2 linked regions of the Homo sapiens genome follow. The protein of the gene in region 1 interacts with the protein of each later gene in a biochemical or structural test. Each region holds a gene or a part of one and is shown on either strand. Other genes may lie near its edges.

Region 1 (8,969 bases):
GCCAGTACTAGGTCTCGGGAGAAGGCTGGGAGCTCCACCCCAGTCCACTCGTCATGGGTTCCCAGACCTGGCCCCATTTCTGAGTTGCACACATGAGGATTTCTTCATTGTTTTATCTCAGGAAGGAACTTGTGGGTTTGACTCCTTATTGAGGCAGAAATGGCAACCCCACCCAACCTCTTCCAGGCCCCAGCCACAGCTGTCTCTCTCTTGGCCCCAGCTTAGGTGTCAGCCTCTCAAATCAACCCCTACCCTCACAGAGCCCCAGAGAAAATAGCCTGGCCTGGAGCCAGAAGTGAGACAGATAAATTACAACGCTACCCCTAGTGCATGTCCCAGGAGCCAACTCCTAACTCAGCAGTAAACAGAAGGGACTCAGCTTCTAAGGAAGCATCTGGAAGGCAACTGGGAGTGGGACTCTCCCTATGGGGAGGCAAGGGGTTGTGTTTGAGGGAAAGTGGCCACCTTTCCCCATATCCAGGCAACCAGAGAATCCCAGTGTTAACTGGTGGAGAACACACCCCTGGGAGTGCTTAGCTTCAGTAGGTGGCAGCGGCCATCACATTCCTGACTTTTAAGGCAACCTGGTCTAGCTAGAAGACCCAGGTTCTACACTCATCTGCTCAGTGCGATGCTGAGGCAGGACCTTGCCCTCCTTCCTTGGGCCTCAGCCTCCTCTGCTGCACACGGATTTGGACCAACTGGAGTTCTCAGAGGTCCCTTCCAACCTTGACCTTCTAGGAAGTCTTTTGGGCACTCCACCCCCAGCTCAGGCAGAGGGAAGAGTACTTTTTGCCTGTACTGAAAAACCCTCATACGTGGGCACACAAACCACCTCCATCTTTTCACAAAAAGGAAGTTCCCCTTCTACCTTCCAGCCCCAACCCCTCCAAAAACATCTTGCTCTCTGGCCCTGGAAACTAGCTCCACCTTCAGACTTGCCAAAAACTACCAGATTCATCACAAAGAGCTGTGGCGCCTCCTGGATTCCCAACTCTGGCCTCCTACTCCCATCTCTGAGCTACTTGGCAGGAAGAGGAATCCTGTTCCTCGACTCACAGCAGTCGGGGGCCCCAGTACCCTGGCTTCCCTGCCAGCCAATCACAGCAGCCTGCTTGCTGCCCTCCTCCCTGGGAGATGGGGCCCAGAGACTCCTCTCAGGGTCAGCAGAAGACTTGGCCCGCCACAGAGCAAGGTGGAGGAAGGTGCCAGCTCACCCACCCTCTCCCCCAGCCTCCCTAGGAGACAATCTGCATGTCCTAAATAACCTCTTCCAGATCCAGCAGCTCCCCCGCCTCCTCCCCAGGCTCCTTCTGAGGCGGGACAGAACCGGTGACTTTCCTGCCCGGCCTGAGCCCAGCCCAAGTTTCCAGCAAGAGGCCCAGGGAGCCACTTCCCAAACCACAGGAGTGACAGCAGCTCCCCACAGGGTTATGAAAGACCTTGGTCAGAGAGGGCGGGCCAGGGGAGGGGGCACCATTATCACATCGGAAGCAGATGCAGCTCACCTCCCTGTCTGTCCCTCAGCTTGGGCCTTGGGCTAAGGGGGGAAGAGGGAGCTGTTTCCACCAGGCCCAAAGCAGCTGCTCCAGTTCCTCAGAATGAGGACGAGGAAGGATTAGGAAGAAGCTGTTTCTTCCGGGATATAAGAGGAAGCAAAGAAGGTGGGATGAAATACATCAGCCCTTCCTTAAAGCAATCAGGGCCTGGCTTTAATTGGCTCTGGGAGGCTTTTCTATCACAAAGTCCACATGAGGATAAAGACTCAACCAAGGCAAAACCCCCTCCCCCACATGAAGCACATTCCACTCCCCTACTCCAGTGGGGGTGTGCAGGCATGCCCTTCTGCTGCCAATAAATAACTCATGGTGGCTGCGTAAACCCAGAGGCAAAGTACTAGTGAGTGTAGACATGCAATTTGACTTGTTGCTATCTGGGGGAAAGACCAGGAAGGAGTGGCATCCCCTGGAGGTCAGGAGGAGGGGGTTTAATGCCTGCCTGCAGCTCAAGCCTGGGCGGGAGTGATACTAACCATCACACCACAATGCCCCATCGTTTGTTCCACCCCAATTCCTTTCCCAAAGGTCCTGATCCCCTTGCTTCCTCTCCAGGGGGCAGAAAGCCTCTGATATCTCAAGCTTTCCTTTTCCTGGAAAGTGGGGAGACAATACGTGTCGGGGGTGGGGGGAGTTACACACGCACCCGCAACTGGCGGGGAGAGACAGCGTGGTCGGTGTAGATGCACAGTTTTTCGATGGTCAGGGGCGTGGTCTCGCGCAGCTTGGAGGCCAGCAGCATGCAGACCGCACCCAGGAGCTGCAACTGCGCCTTTCGGGTGGGGACGCAAGACAGGTAGCGATCCAGGTAGTTCATGGCCAGGGGGAAGACTTCCTCCTCACAGCGCTGCTCCTCACATACCTGGGGGAGGGCGCACAGTCACTGCTGGGTCTGGAGCGTGGGGAACACAGCAGCGGGGGGGTGGGAGCGCTGAAGTGAGGTGGGATAGGGAGCAAAAACGGCAGAGAGGGTAAGCTACTTAGAGAGACAAGGACCAATAAAGGAGGAGGATGCGCCCTCCCCAAGGTGACGCCCCCCACTTCCTCTGCGCGGCCTCCTCCCCTCTCCCCTTGACGGGGGAGTGGTAAAGCCAAGGAGCCCTTGCTCACGGAGGATTCCAAACGGAGACTCCCCTCCCCCACAGCGAGGGGAAGTGGGACGCAAGGGTCACCCATGGTAGCCAGAGAGCTGGGACCTCACCCCCATCACCGCCACCACTGCACACACCCGAGGGGAAGGGAGGAGGCTCCTGCCGCTGCCTCCTGCACTTTTCATTTCCCTGTCGGCCGGAACAGGGCGCGCGCCACCCCCATCGCCTTCCCCGCCAGAACCCCGCGAAAGACACAGGAACCGGCTCCCGGGCGGGGGCGGCCGAGCCCAGGGTTTTCCAGGCGCGCTCTCCGGAGAAGGCCGGGAGGCGGAGGGAAGCGGGAGACGCTGTGAGAAGCCGAAGGGGAGAGAGTGTCCTTGGTCCCGTTTGCTCGGCCCGAAGAGAGGCACAGTTAGGGTGCCAAGTGACTGGCAGTCACTGTCGGGAGGAGCCGATTAGGGCTCGGGAAAGCAAGGGAGGCAGCTGGCGTGGGTGCCCTAGTGAAAGGCCAGGCCCCGGGAGTCTTAGCCTCGGAGCATCCTGCAGATTGCTGTGGGGACCGGGATGTCCCGACAGGGCGGCCCCGGTGTGTCCAGACCCGGGAGCGGTGGGGGAGGGGGACGCGTCCGGGCGGTACCTCCAGCATCCAGTAAGCCAGCATCTTCCGCATGTGCGGCTTGATCTCCCGCTGCACGCACTGGAAGTAGGAGGCGCGGGGTACGTAGCGCTCCTCCAGGCGGAGCAGGCTCTGCAGGACACGCTGGTCCCCCAGCAGCCGCGGGTCCGGCCCGGCCCGGGGCGCGTGCCGGGTGCCTTCGCAACACAGCAGCTCCATACTCGGGCAGCGAACAGGCAGGGCGGGAGTGCGGGCTCGCGAGTCCCAAGGCAGGCGACGGGCCGGAGAGCGCGGGGCGCGGGTCTGGCGCTGGCGCTGGCACTGCGCGGCGGATCCCCAGCCCGCCCGCCGCCCGCGCGCGCGCGCCGCTTCCCTGACAGGCGCCCCGCCCCTCGCGACGATGTAGCAACCGTGGAATGCTCGGACGTCGCAACGCTCCGAGGGGCGGGGCTGCGGCGCCCCGGACGGAAAGGGTTGGCTGAGCGCTCTCCCCTCCCTCCCGCGGCCCCATTGGGCCGCTGAGCGCAAGCCGGCCGGCTTCCGGGCACTCCAGGCCCTCTGGACCACCGGGTGCAGAGAACTTTCTAGGAGGTGGGCCTCCTACCCACCCACGGGCCCTCCCATTTTGCTTCTCGGACTCTAGTCACCCAGGAAACAATTTTTCTCCAAAGGTCATTCATTCACTTATTCATTCGTCAAACCCTACTTCACCGGCTGCTTGCTCTAAGGAATGCGATAAATAATGTCAGAGCTAGTTCTTAGTGAACGCTGCTCGAAAGCCTCACGATGTAATGACTCACTACATCTTCACGAAAACTCGGAAACCGAGGCAACTGTCATTCAGTTGGTCCGTGGCAGAGCTAGGATTGGGAAGCTGGCCTTCTTGCTGCAGATTCTGTGTTCTACACCATTGCTAGTTAAACTGTGATCCCAGACCTGTCCCGTGCGTGGTCATCGCCTGGGAGCTGGTTAGAAATGCAGACTCTCAGGCCCACCCCTAACCTGAATCAGAATCTGCATTTTAACTAGATTTCTGTGCACTTTAAAGTATGAGAGCTTTAGTCTAAGTCAGCATATAACAGAACGGAAAGGCCATGGAGTCATGGCCTCACCTTGTTAAGTTGCTTGCCTAGGTTTGGACAAGCCCCTAAAGTCGGCCTTAGTTTCTGTTTGGAGAAACTGTGGACGGAGAAACTAGATTCTCATTGAATCAGTTTCTTGCACAGACTCTGTGAGATCTACCGGTTGCATTTCTTCCACCTCCCAAACTTTTGGTTACTTTGTAGTTTTACCGGAAGCTAGATTCCACTTGACGAAGAGGCCGAAAAAGACCTCCAATAATGCTCCAAATGGGAGGAGGCCATGAGGATCCCTGCCCTACTGGGGTCCTCCTGACTTAGGAGACACTAAGGAAGTGTCTAACCATTTTCTGTTAATTATTCTTTTTTTTTTTTTTTTTTTTTTTTGAGACGAAGTCTCACTCTGTTGCTCAAGCTGGAGTGCAGTGGTGCGATCTGGGCTCACTGCAACCTCCACCTCCCGGGTTCAAGCAATTCCCGAGTAGCTGGGACTACAGGCACGCACCACCATGCCTGACTAATTTTTGTATTTTTCGTAGAGATGGGGTTTCACTATGTTGGCCAGGCTAGTCTTGAACCCCTGACCTCGTGATCCGCCGGTCTCGGCCTCCAAAAGTGCTGGGATTACAGGCGTGAGCCACCGTTCCCGGCCGAATTATTCTTTCTTATATTATAAATTGTATTGTAGTTTTCATATCATAAAATATTCTTTTACATTGTAGAAAACTTCAAAAATACAAATAAGCCACAAAAAAAGGAAATAATCATTTGCAATTTGCCATGAAATAACCCTTTAATATATCAATGTTTATTTTTCTAATCTTTGTTCTATGAATAAACACACATTTTAAATGGAATCATCACAAACTGTTTTGTAAGCTTTTTTCATTAAAAAAATACTGTTAACACTTTTCCATGCTATTAAATATTCTAGGACATAATTTGTAATAGGGACATAATATACCATTAGGTGAATGTACAAAATGTATTTTGGCAAACCTGTATTGGTGGAAATTTAAATTATTTCTAGTTCTTCTCTATTAGACATAATACTGTAAAATATTTTTGTGGTAATATCTTTGTGCACACTCATGATTATTTCTAGAAGTGAATTAATTTCTAGAAGTGGAATTTCCCAATCTAAGGTTATGAAACATTCTAAGGCTTTTGATACACTTCTAATTGCCAAATTTTCCTGCTGAATAGTTAAACCAATCTTTTCCACCATCATTACATATCTATTTTTCAAAACAACTCTGCCAACTAGAGAGTGAAAGTGGCTTATTAGTAATAATAAATCTATTTTGGCATATTACTAGACATTTACATTTCTTATGTACATTACCCATTCATGTCCTTAGCTTATTCATTTATAGGGATGTTTGTTTTCTCTTATTGACTTATAAGTTCTCATCACCTCTCAAAGATATTAACCCTTTTCATATTTTTTGTTTGGTTTTTTAACTTTGGTTATAAAAATTCTTGACATAAATTAATTTTTAAAATCAGTATTTTTAAAACTTCTCATTTATAGTAACATGGCACTATGTATAAAAATGTCCCATCAGCCCAGCACTTTGGGAGGCTGAGGCAGGAGGATCACTGGAAGCTAGGAGTTGAAGACCAGCCTGGACAACAAAGCAAGACTCCTATCTCTACAAAAAATAAAAAAAAAAAATAAGCTGGGTGCGGTGGCACAAGCCTGTAGTCCCAGCTACTAGGGAGACCGAAGCAGGAGGATCGCTTGAGCCCAGGAGTTCAAGGCTGCAGTGAACCATAACGGCACATGACCTTCCTTAACATTTTGTTATCATACATTTTGCAAAAACAAAATTTTAGTTCATTGTTTTTACTAATTTTTGGTTCACGGTGGATTTTTTTTTTTTTAACAAATAGAAGGGTTTTTTGTGTTTTTCTTTGTTTTTTGGTTTTCTTTGTTTTTTTGACACAAAGTTTTGCTCTTGTCACCAGGCTGGAGTGCAGCTTACTGCAACCTCTGCCTCCTGGTTTCAAGTGATTCTCCTGCCTCAGCTTCCTGAGTAGCTGGGATTACGGGTGCATACCACCATGCCCGGCTAATTTTTGTATTTTCAGTAGATACGGGATTTCACCATGTTGGCCAGGCTGGTCTCGAACTCCTGACCTCAAGTGATCTGCCTGCCTCAGCTTCCTAAAGTGCTGGGATTACAGGCACAAACCACCGCACCTGGCAAATTAGTTGCTGATTTATTAATTGAGGGAGGGCCACATAGACTGACTAGTCCTGAAAGCTGGATGTGAACCTGTAGTATGGGGACGGGAGCTCCTGGTGAGCAGGACTTTAGGAGAGATACTTCTGCCTCACCCCTGGATGGAATAGCCATGCCTAGAGCTAGATCATCCCTGACTTTCAGGGCCAAGGACTGGCCACTGGGGAGGCAGGTGAGCTCAATGCAGGACCAGCACAAGTTCACCAGTTACCTCCACCTCAAAGAAATAGAGGCTCCTCTTGTTTTTCTTGTTTTTGTTTTTGTTTTTCTAAAAGGAAAACTAAAGACAAAGCAATGACCAGGGCCAATAGTATGAGGAGTTTCTACCCAGGTACATCCAGTTAGAAAAAGTCAATAAAATGGCAAATTGGAGGAGGGGTGGGAATGGAATGTCACAGGCCAAATAAGAAACCCCAAGGAGGAAAGATACATTTTCTTTCTCTTCCTCTTCATCATCAAAATACCCCCATCTGGGCCAGGCACGGTGGCTCACGCCTGTAATCCCAGCACTTTGGGATGCCAAGACGGGTGGATCACCTGAAGTCAGGAGTTCGAGACCAGCCTGGCCAACATGGTAAAACCTTGTCTCTACTAAAAATACAAAAAATTAGCCAGGTGTGGTGGTGGATGCCTGTAATCCCAGCTACTCCGGAGGCTGAGCAGGAGAATCACTTGAACCCTGGAGCCAGAGGCTGCAGTGAGCCGAGATCGTGCCATTGCACTCTAGCCAGGGCAACAAGAGCGAAACTCTGTCTCCAAAAAAAAAAGTCCGCATCTGAGAAGTGAGAGGCTGAACAAGGTGATGGGTGAGGCCCATCACCCCACAGTCCACATGCCATGGCTTAGTTACCTTCAGACCCATTGAGATGCTGGGGAGAGCCAAGCGAGCCATGGGGCTGAGAACAGGGGTGCTAAACAGGGTTCTGGAGTCAGAGACTGCTTTCAGTTCAAACCTGGCTCCACAGCTTATGACTTTGAGAGAATTACTGGAACCTCTCTGCTTCCTCTTTTATCCAGTGGGGATAATATAATAGCCCTATAATGATGTTCTGAAAATTAAACAAGCAGAAAATGTCTTACCTGTGCCTGGCACAAAGCAAGCATTCAGAGATAGTAGTTTCTGAAATGATTATTATTATTCCCTTTCTCAAGGAGTACCCTTTCTGTTATGAACATGCATCCATAACCCCTCTAAGAAAAGCAAAAGTTTGAGCAGCAAGAGCCCTACTCCTAGAATTGCATCTCTAGCAAATCCTGAAGACCTGGCTTCTAACGGTAAACGCATGGTCTAGCGTATGGAGAGGACCCTCCAGGGCCTGGAGCCACACCCCTCTGCCACTCCACTCCCTCACTGTGTGAATTTGGCTAAGTTAAACCACCTCTCTGTGCCTCAGTTTCCTTTTCTAAAAATGGTGATAACAGTAGTACCCCCCCACAGAGTGGTTGTGAGGAGGAAATGGGTTGATTTGTTTAAAATACATAGAAGAGTGGCTGGCACGTGGTGAACCCTTTTTTAAAAAGTTAGTTGTGATTGCGGGACTTAAAAGCACAAAGTTGGCCGGGCACGGTGGCTCACACCTGTAATCCTAGCACGTTGGGAGGCAGGGGCAGGCAGATCACTTGAGGCCAGGAGTTTGAGACCGCCTGGCCAACACAGTAAAACCCCATCTCTACCAAAAAAAAAATATAAAAATTAGCCGAACGCAGTGGCGCACGCCTGTAGTCCCAGCTACTCAGGAGGCTGAGGCAGGAGAATTGTTTGAGCCTGGGAGATGGAGATTGCAGTGAGCCCAGATCGCACTACTGCACTCCACCCTGGGCAACAGAGACCTGTCTCAAAAAAAAAAAAAAAAAAAAAAAAAAAAAGCAGTAAACCAAACTACATATAATTTAGCTTTTTTCTTTGAGAATCAAGGAGCTATCTCGGTGCTTACAGTATTCCAGGTCACTATTATGAGCATCTGTAATATTTGTACAATATTTCACATTAATCTTTAAAACTCTTTGCTTGTCCATTCCTATCAGTAAAAATTGAGCACTCTTCGGCTGGGCGCGGTGGCTCACACCTGTAATCCCAGCACTTTGGGAGGCCGAGGTGGGCGGATCACCTGAAGTCAGGAGTTCAAGACCAGCCTGGCCAACATGGCAAAACCCCATCTTTACTAAAAATACAAAAATTGGCTGGGTGCAGTGGCTCACACCTGTAATCCCAGCACTTTGGGAGGCCGAGGCGGGCAGATCACGAGGTCAGGAGATCGAGACCAGCCTAACCAACATGGTGAAACCCCATCTCTACTAAAAATACAAAAAAAATTAGCTGGGCATGGTGGCGCATGCCTGTAATCCCAGCTACTCAGGAGGCTGAGGAAGGAGAATCG
Region 2 (7,000 bases), on another chromosome or scaffold:
GAGAGGATATGTTGGCACGTGAATGAGGGCTGCAGACAAGCTGGCTCTCATTAGAATAGTCACAAATAATAGGGCAGAGCAACCACTTACAACTGGAAATTTGGTTTTAACTGATTGAACTGTCTTGGTTAGGTCAAGTTCTTGAATACAAACGACTGACTGCTTCGTAGATCCTTATATGGACATCACAGGACACTTACCCTAGTAACTATTTGGTTTATTCCTTTTCGTGGTGACATATCTAAGTAGTTCAACGTCCTTAGCTTCCTTGTGTTTTTATAAACATTCTTGTGCTTCATGTGCCTTCAGGAAATGTGGTGTGTCTGTTCATTTCCTTTACGCTTCCTTACTGCCACTACATAGACACTGCAGGCATTGGTTGCTTGCCCGCCGATGTACCACCTGATGAAGTTCATTCCTCTGTATTCCAAAGTGCAAAGGCCTTGTACGTCAACACCCATGATAGACAGCTTGTAAGTAAGGTGGTGAAAGATGTGTTAAGTGGTGGGGTTTTTCCCGTCTGATAATTAGAATTGAAATAGTTTAGTAAAGCTCTTGATTTCCTGCAAATGAGTCCTATAATTCTGTCTTTTTTTAAAAATAGACTGTTGGCGATTTTATATGGAAGTTAACCAGAAATGGAATTGGAGCATTGATGATCTGTGTTCTTTAGATTCAGTAGAAAATATTTTAGCGTTTACCAGCATATATCACTTGAAATAGACCAAAAATGCATATAGAAGAGACTTGAGTTCACTAGCTGTTACAGCATTGGTTACCTAAAATCTACTATACTCGTATAGCTGATATTCTACTTAGCCATCAAAGCTCTTTAGTAAAAGTATATATTGTTTAAAACTGCACTATTTAACATTTTTTCCCCATGTTTAGTGTTCGGCTAATGAATGAGTTCACTAATATGCCAGTACCTCCAAAACCCCGACAAGGTTAGTAAAAATGAGTTTTGTTGATGCTATTACATATTGGGAGTTATGGAGACAGATGACTTAAATTTGGTAAATTCAGTCTTGTTGGGAAGATAGTGTCTTTACACCTATGCCATTCTCAACATTCAGCCAGGTGGGAGGTGGGGGAGTTTTGATGATGTTGCTTTTTTCATCATTTATGAGTTCATTGTAGTTAGGAAAACCTGTGTCCTCTTTCCATTGCAGCTCTTGGAGATAAAATCGTGAGGGATATTCGCCCTGGAGCTGCCTTTGAGCCCACATATATTTACAGACTCCTGACAGTTAACAAGTCAAGCCTGTCTGAAAAGGTTTGAGACTTCTCTGTTGTCACTAGTATCAAGTGTTGCCTTTTGTTCCAGTGTTTGTGTGGTAACTGTTGCTTATTGATATTTGCCCTCTGTCTCCAGCGCTATAAGTAGATGTAGGTTTATAAGAGTCCATTGCTTGGATGATATGGTGCACCAAGCACTGCTCTCAGTACTTTACATATATTAACTTAGTTGACTCTGAATAAAGTATGATTATGGTCTCCTTGTTACGGTTAAGAGAAGTGAAGCCACTGTCTGAGGTCAGGTAGCTAATGTACATGGCAGAACCCAGCTTTCAAGTCAGTTCTCTTAACCACTGCACTATATGCCACTGGGGTAGAATGGAGTGCACTGGGCCTGGAATGATGGCAGTATTCAGAAGAGCTTATGTCTTCATCATACTTACAGGCTTTAGTAGCTATTTGATGTACTTGATTCCTTTACCTAATTTTTTTTTAATCACATACTTTGTTACTAAAGGCATGAGACCAAGGGGCCAGGGAGCCCTTATAAAAGGCCCTGGGGCTGTTGAGAGTGACTTGGGCCGCCCTTAGCACCGTTAACTGGAGCATTTCTTTCCTCCCAGATTGAGTTTGTGATGAATCAGTACAAGCAGTTGAAATGATGCTTAGGGAAATGTATTCAGAGAGAAAAATAGTTGAGAAAATGCCATTTAAGTCAAGTTTACTTGAAGCTTCATTGCTTTGAAGAAGAGTGAATGTCGAGGGCATCGTTGCAGGATACCACCAGGGGTAGCATAGGGTCTTAAGCTTTTTAAATGCTTATAATGCAGCTTTTGGTATTGGCTTGGAATTTGCACTTCCCAAGTAATGGGAACATGGTGTTAGGGATGCAGAAATGGAATGAAGTGCGCCCTCTGCCCTCAGTGAGGGAATGAGTTAATGAATAGTCAACAAGAGAAGCACAAAGATACAGAGATGCCTTAGAACCCAGAGGGGCCCACCTAGCACAGGTGGAGGCAAAATAAAGTGGGTGCTCAGGAACCCCTCTTGGATCGTGCACAGAGATAATGCTATGAACAAAAGCATCTTCTAAAGGTTACATTAATAGGGGATGTGTTGGGCTCCCCAAGACCACCCTGAGGTTGGGTGATTCACTGGAAGAACTCAGAAAATGCAGAAGCTGGTATACCCGTGGCTATGGTTGCTGACAGCAAAAGCATGCGGAGCAGAGTCAGGAAGGGAAAGGACAGGTGAGGCAGGGCCTAAAGGAAACTTCCAGACTCCTCTCCCAGTGGGGCCACAAGGCTACGCGTAACTACTCCAGCACCAGACTGTGACCACACGTGAAATGCTGCCAACCAGGGAAGGTCATTACAGACTCCGTGTCCAGAGTTTTTACTGAGGGCTGGTCCCATAGGTACCATCTGCCTGGCTTGAACCAAAAGTCCAAACTCCCAAAACAAAAGCAAAGTGTTCAGCAGAAAGCACATTGCTTGCGCAAACGGTTTAGGCAGAATCCCGTATCAGTTATTGGACCGATGGGAACCTTTCTGAAATCCAAATTCCCAGACACCAGCCAAGGGGCAACCTTGCAAGCAGGCCTTTCCAAGGAGAGCCACCCAGGCCTGCTATGAAAAGTCTTCAGCACACTTTGGCTGTGCCAGTTTTTGCCCTTTTCTGCACACGTGCAGAGCATGCACTCACGTGAACAGCTGCTGTCCACGTCTACTATCTGGAGAGGGCAAGTAAACTTTGCAGTTTACCTAGATGCTTCAAACAGAACAATTTGCAGGGCCTTGGAATAGGCAGTTGTGCTGTGAAGAATGAAATATGAACTGATGATAAGTAACAGAATCAAACACTCGTGATGTGGGATTATTAAACTCTTGGGTGACTCGTCTGTGAATGATTTTGCTGATGTATGTGTAACACAGCTAACGCTCTAAATCAGTGGAGTTTTTCCACATGTAGTTTGAGTTCTTTCCCATGTAGTTGTCCATCATCAAAGACAGACAGAAGCAGACATAGGGCTGCTTAGCTCATTGCTCGAGTGGTGACCCTTGCAGTTGAACAGTGAACTGGCCCTAGACATCTAGTTCTTCGTCTTCTATTTTGTTTACCCAAGACAGAAACTTTTTTTTAAATAACTTTTTTGTGATAAAGGTAATGTGGCCAGGTGTGGTGGCTCATGCCTGTAATCCCAGCACTTTGGGAAGCCAAGGCAGGCAGGTCACCTGAGGTCAGGAGTTTGAGACCAGCCTGGCCGACATGGTGAAACCCCGTCTCTACTAAAAATACAAAGATTAGCCAGGCATGGTGGCACACACCTGGAGTCCCAGCTACTCGGGAGGCTGAGGCAGGAGAATCGCTTGAACCCGGGAGCTGGAGGTTGCACTGAGCTGAGATTGCACCACTGCACTCCAGCCTGGGTGACGGAATGAGACTTTGTCTCAAAAAAAAAAAAAAGTATATTTATTGAAGAAAATTTCAAAAATACAGAAAGTATAAATAATAAAAATCCCCATTAGTCCACCCATTTAGAGATATGTGTTTAGTCAGTTTCTCCTTTTCCTCCTACTCTTGGGATTTCAGCTATGCAAGGGAAACCCATGTCATCATGTCATTGTTTGGAAATACTTTACATCTTCCATTTCAGAGGAGGCATGGTTGGACTTTGCAAGTACTGCATGTCCTGCAGGCCTTTGACAGTGATCAGTTCACAGTAACGTGATTATATTTGACCTTTTCAGGGTCGACAAGAAGATGCTGAGGAATACTTAGGCTTCATTCTAAATGGACTTCATGAGGAAATGTTGAACCTAAAGAAGCTTCTCTCACCAAGTAATGAAAGTAGGTTATGGTCCACTTGCCGCAGAGTTGTGCAAGAGTTCGCTGTAAACAGGTGTTGCATACTCATATGTTATGTTGCTTCCCTGCCCCTCAGTCGTTTTCCTTTCAAATAGCATTTATTCCCTACGATAACTTACACCATCGAGAAGGTTATATTTAGGTAAATTACAGTTTATCCCGAACCTCTGCCATTTTCCTTTAACTTTTAATTAGGAAAATGATCAAGCCTATAAAAAAGCTGAAAGAATCGTTTGATGAATACCTTTATAATTGCCGAGTGTACAGTTTTAAACATATTTTCTGATGCTATACACACACTGTGTATATATATATATGTCTTATCTGTCCATCCATATATACATACATACGCATACATTTTCCCTGAATGATTCAAAGTTAAGTTGCAGCTAACAGTTTAGTTCATCTCAGGTGCTAAAGCATCTCCTGCGTAACCACAGTCCCTTATCTAACTGAGAAAAACAACTGTAATGACACGGTAATACCGACTTTGCAGAGCATCTTCAAATTTCGCCAGTTGTCCCAGGGATGTCATTTCTAGGAGTTTATGTAAACAAGGATCCAGTGGTGGTGCACCTGTTGCGATTGGTTGCCGTGGATCAAGTGGCATTGCAATGGGTTGCAGTGGATCCAGTGGCATTGCGCCTGTTGTGATTGGTTGCCGTGGATCCAGTGACGTTGCACCTGTTGCGATTGGTTGCCGTGGATCCAGTGACGTTGTGCCTGTTGGGATTGGTTGCCATGGATCCAGTGACGTTGCACCTGTTGCGATTGGTTGCCGTGGATCCAGTGACATTGTGCCTGTTGCGATTGGCCGTGGATCCAGTGACGTTGCTCCTGTTGCGATTGGTTGCCGTGGCTCCTAATGTAGACCACACCCTGATTTCATTTTTAAAACTGCAATCGACAGATCTGTGCCTTTTTTTTTTTTGCTGTTCTTGTCGTAAATAGTAGTGTAAGCAGATGCTCTCCTTTTCAGAACTTACGATTTCCAACGGCCCCAAAAACCACTCGGTCAATGAAGAAGAGCAGGAAGAACAAGGTGAAGGAAGCGAGGATGAATGGGAACAAGTGGGCCCCCGGAACAAGACTTCCGTCACCCGCCAGGCGGATTTTGTTCAGACTCCAATCACCGGCATTTTTGGTGGACACATCAGGTTTGTGCTTTTCTGGAATAACTTAATATTTGCCTTTTCTAGGGTTTTGCCATGTTGGTGAAGGGGGAAGGTGTGAGGCTTGTTTTGAGACTTCTTGGACGTAATGGTTTGCATCTTGCTCCCCTGCCTGCTCTTCTCTTGCACTTCCTGATGCTTCCCTTGTCAGCCCCCGTGGCTTATTCTCTCCCTGCTGGCGCATGTCTGCAGGGGACAGGGAGCTCCTCCCTTCTACTCTGTCAAGTTCAGCTGCTCACTGCTAGGGAGTAAGAGAAAAGCCAGCTAATTGGCCATACGCGGTGGTTCATGCCTGTAATCCCAGGACTTTGGGAGGCCAAGGCGGGTGGATCACCTGAGGTTAGAAGTTCGAGATCAACCTGATCAACATGGTGAAACCCCGTCTCTACTAAAAATACAAAAATCAACCAGGTGTGGTGACAGGCACCTGTAATCCCAGCTATTAGGGAGGCTGAGGCAGGAGAATCGCTTGAACCCAGGAGGCAGAGGTTGCAGTGGCCCAGATAGCGCCATTGCACTCCAGCATGGGTGACAGAGTGAGACTCTGTCTCAAGAAAAAAAAAAGAAAAAGATACAGGAGAATGTCATCATGACTTAGGGGTAGGCAAAGGTTTCATAAGATAGGTCATAAACAATAACCACGAGAGAGAGAGAAAAAAAAATATATATATATATATTAGACTTCATCTGCATTTAAAACTTGCAACATAAAACCACCTCCGGGAGGCAGAGGTTGCAGTGAGCCAAGATTACACCACTGCACTCCAGCCTGGGTGACAGAGCAAGACTGTCTTCAAAAAAAAAAACCAGCTAACCAAACCATGTGTTTTGGTAAGAGAAGACAGTGTATCTGGAGGAATTTTATTTATGTTAATAAATTGTGTATATTTAAAGTATACACAGATGTTATGAAATAGAGATAGTAAAATAGTTGCTACAGTGAAGCAGATAAACATATTCCCCATCACAGTTACCCTTGTGTGTGTGTGTGTGCACATGGCAAGAGCAGCTGCAGTTTTACTCATTTCACAAAAGTCCCAAATACAGTGCACTATGAGTAGCTCTTGTCCGATGTTCCACATCAGATCTCTAGACCTGTTCGCCTGTGTGGCTGCCCTTGGTGTCCTTCGACCGACATCTTCCATTCCCACTCGCCACCCCTAGGAACCACTCTTTTCCCTATCTCTGTAGTTTCGTCTTTTTTTTTTTTTTAATAAAGATTCCATGTATAAGTGAGACCATGCAATATTTTTCTTTCTGTGTCTGACTTCTTTAACTTAGTATAATGTTCCCCAGGTTCATTCCTGTTGTGGCAAATGGCAGGGTCTTTATTACAGCTGAATAGTGTTCCCTTGTCTATATATACACACCACAGTTTCTTTATCCATTGGCCCATCCACAGACAGTTGTTTCCCTGTCTTGGCTGTTGTGAACTGATTGGAAGCAGGTGAGGTAGAAAGTGAAGAGAGTGTGAAGGGAGGTCTTTTTTACACAGACAGACCCGTGACTGGGCTGGAGTCCCTGGGCACCTGGCTGTGTGCCAGTTCCCTTAAGCAGCTTTTTGCTCATTCACAAAGTCCTTCGGAAAGGTTTTTCTTTATTTACCTGAGAGCTTTTCAGTACCACTGTGATGTGGAATTCAGCAAAACTTGTACCATCTCCAAGAAGGTTTACCCATCGAAAGTACTGAAGAGGCCTCATTGGAGCCTAATTTCCTTTCT

The links. Proteins that work in one complex are often made in the same cells at the same time.
Region 2: of the proteins of CCND3 (region 1) and USP10, one has a biochemical effect on the other in vitro, tested with the Homo sapiens proteins (one study listed by BioGRID).

Annotation. Positions count from the first base shown.
Region 1 is NC_000006.12:41,938,168-41,947,136, forward strand, and holds the start of CCND3 (G1/S-specific cyclin-D3), read right to left. Parts: upstream 3,642-8,969; 5' UTR 3,483-3,641; coding exon 3,285-3,482; exon of another isoform or gene 2,995-3,284; coding exon of another isoform or gene 2,785-2,994; intron 2,419-2,784; coding exon 2,203-2,418; intron 1,039-2,202; exon of another isoform or gene 1-1,038. UniProt on the Homo sapiens protein: Regulatory component of the cyclin D3-CDK4 (DC) complex that phosphorylates and inhibits members of the retinoblastoma (RB) protein family including RB1 and regulates the cell-cycle during G(1)/S transition.
Region 2 is NC_000016.10:84,759,000-84,765,999, forward strand, and holds part of USP10 (ubiquitin carboxyl-terminal hydrolase 10), read left to right. Parts: intron 1-363; coding exon 364-473; intron 474-891; coding exon 892-947; intron 948-1,172; coding exon 1,173-1,276; intron 1,277-3,989; coding exon 3,990-4,089; intron 4,090-5,086; coding exon 5,087-5,264; intron 5,265-7,000. UniProt on the Homo sapiens protein: Hydrolase that can remove conjugated ubiquitin from target proteins such as p53/TP53, RPS2/us5, RPS3/us3, RPS10/eS10, BECN1, SNX3 and CFTR.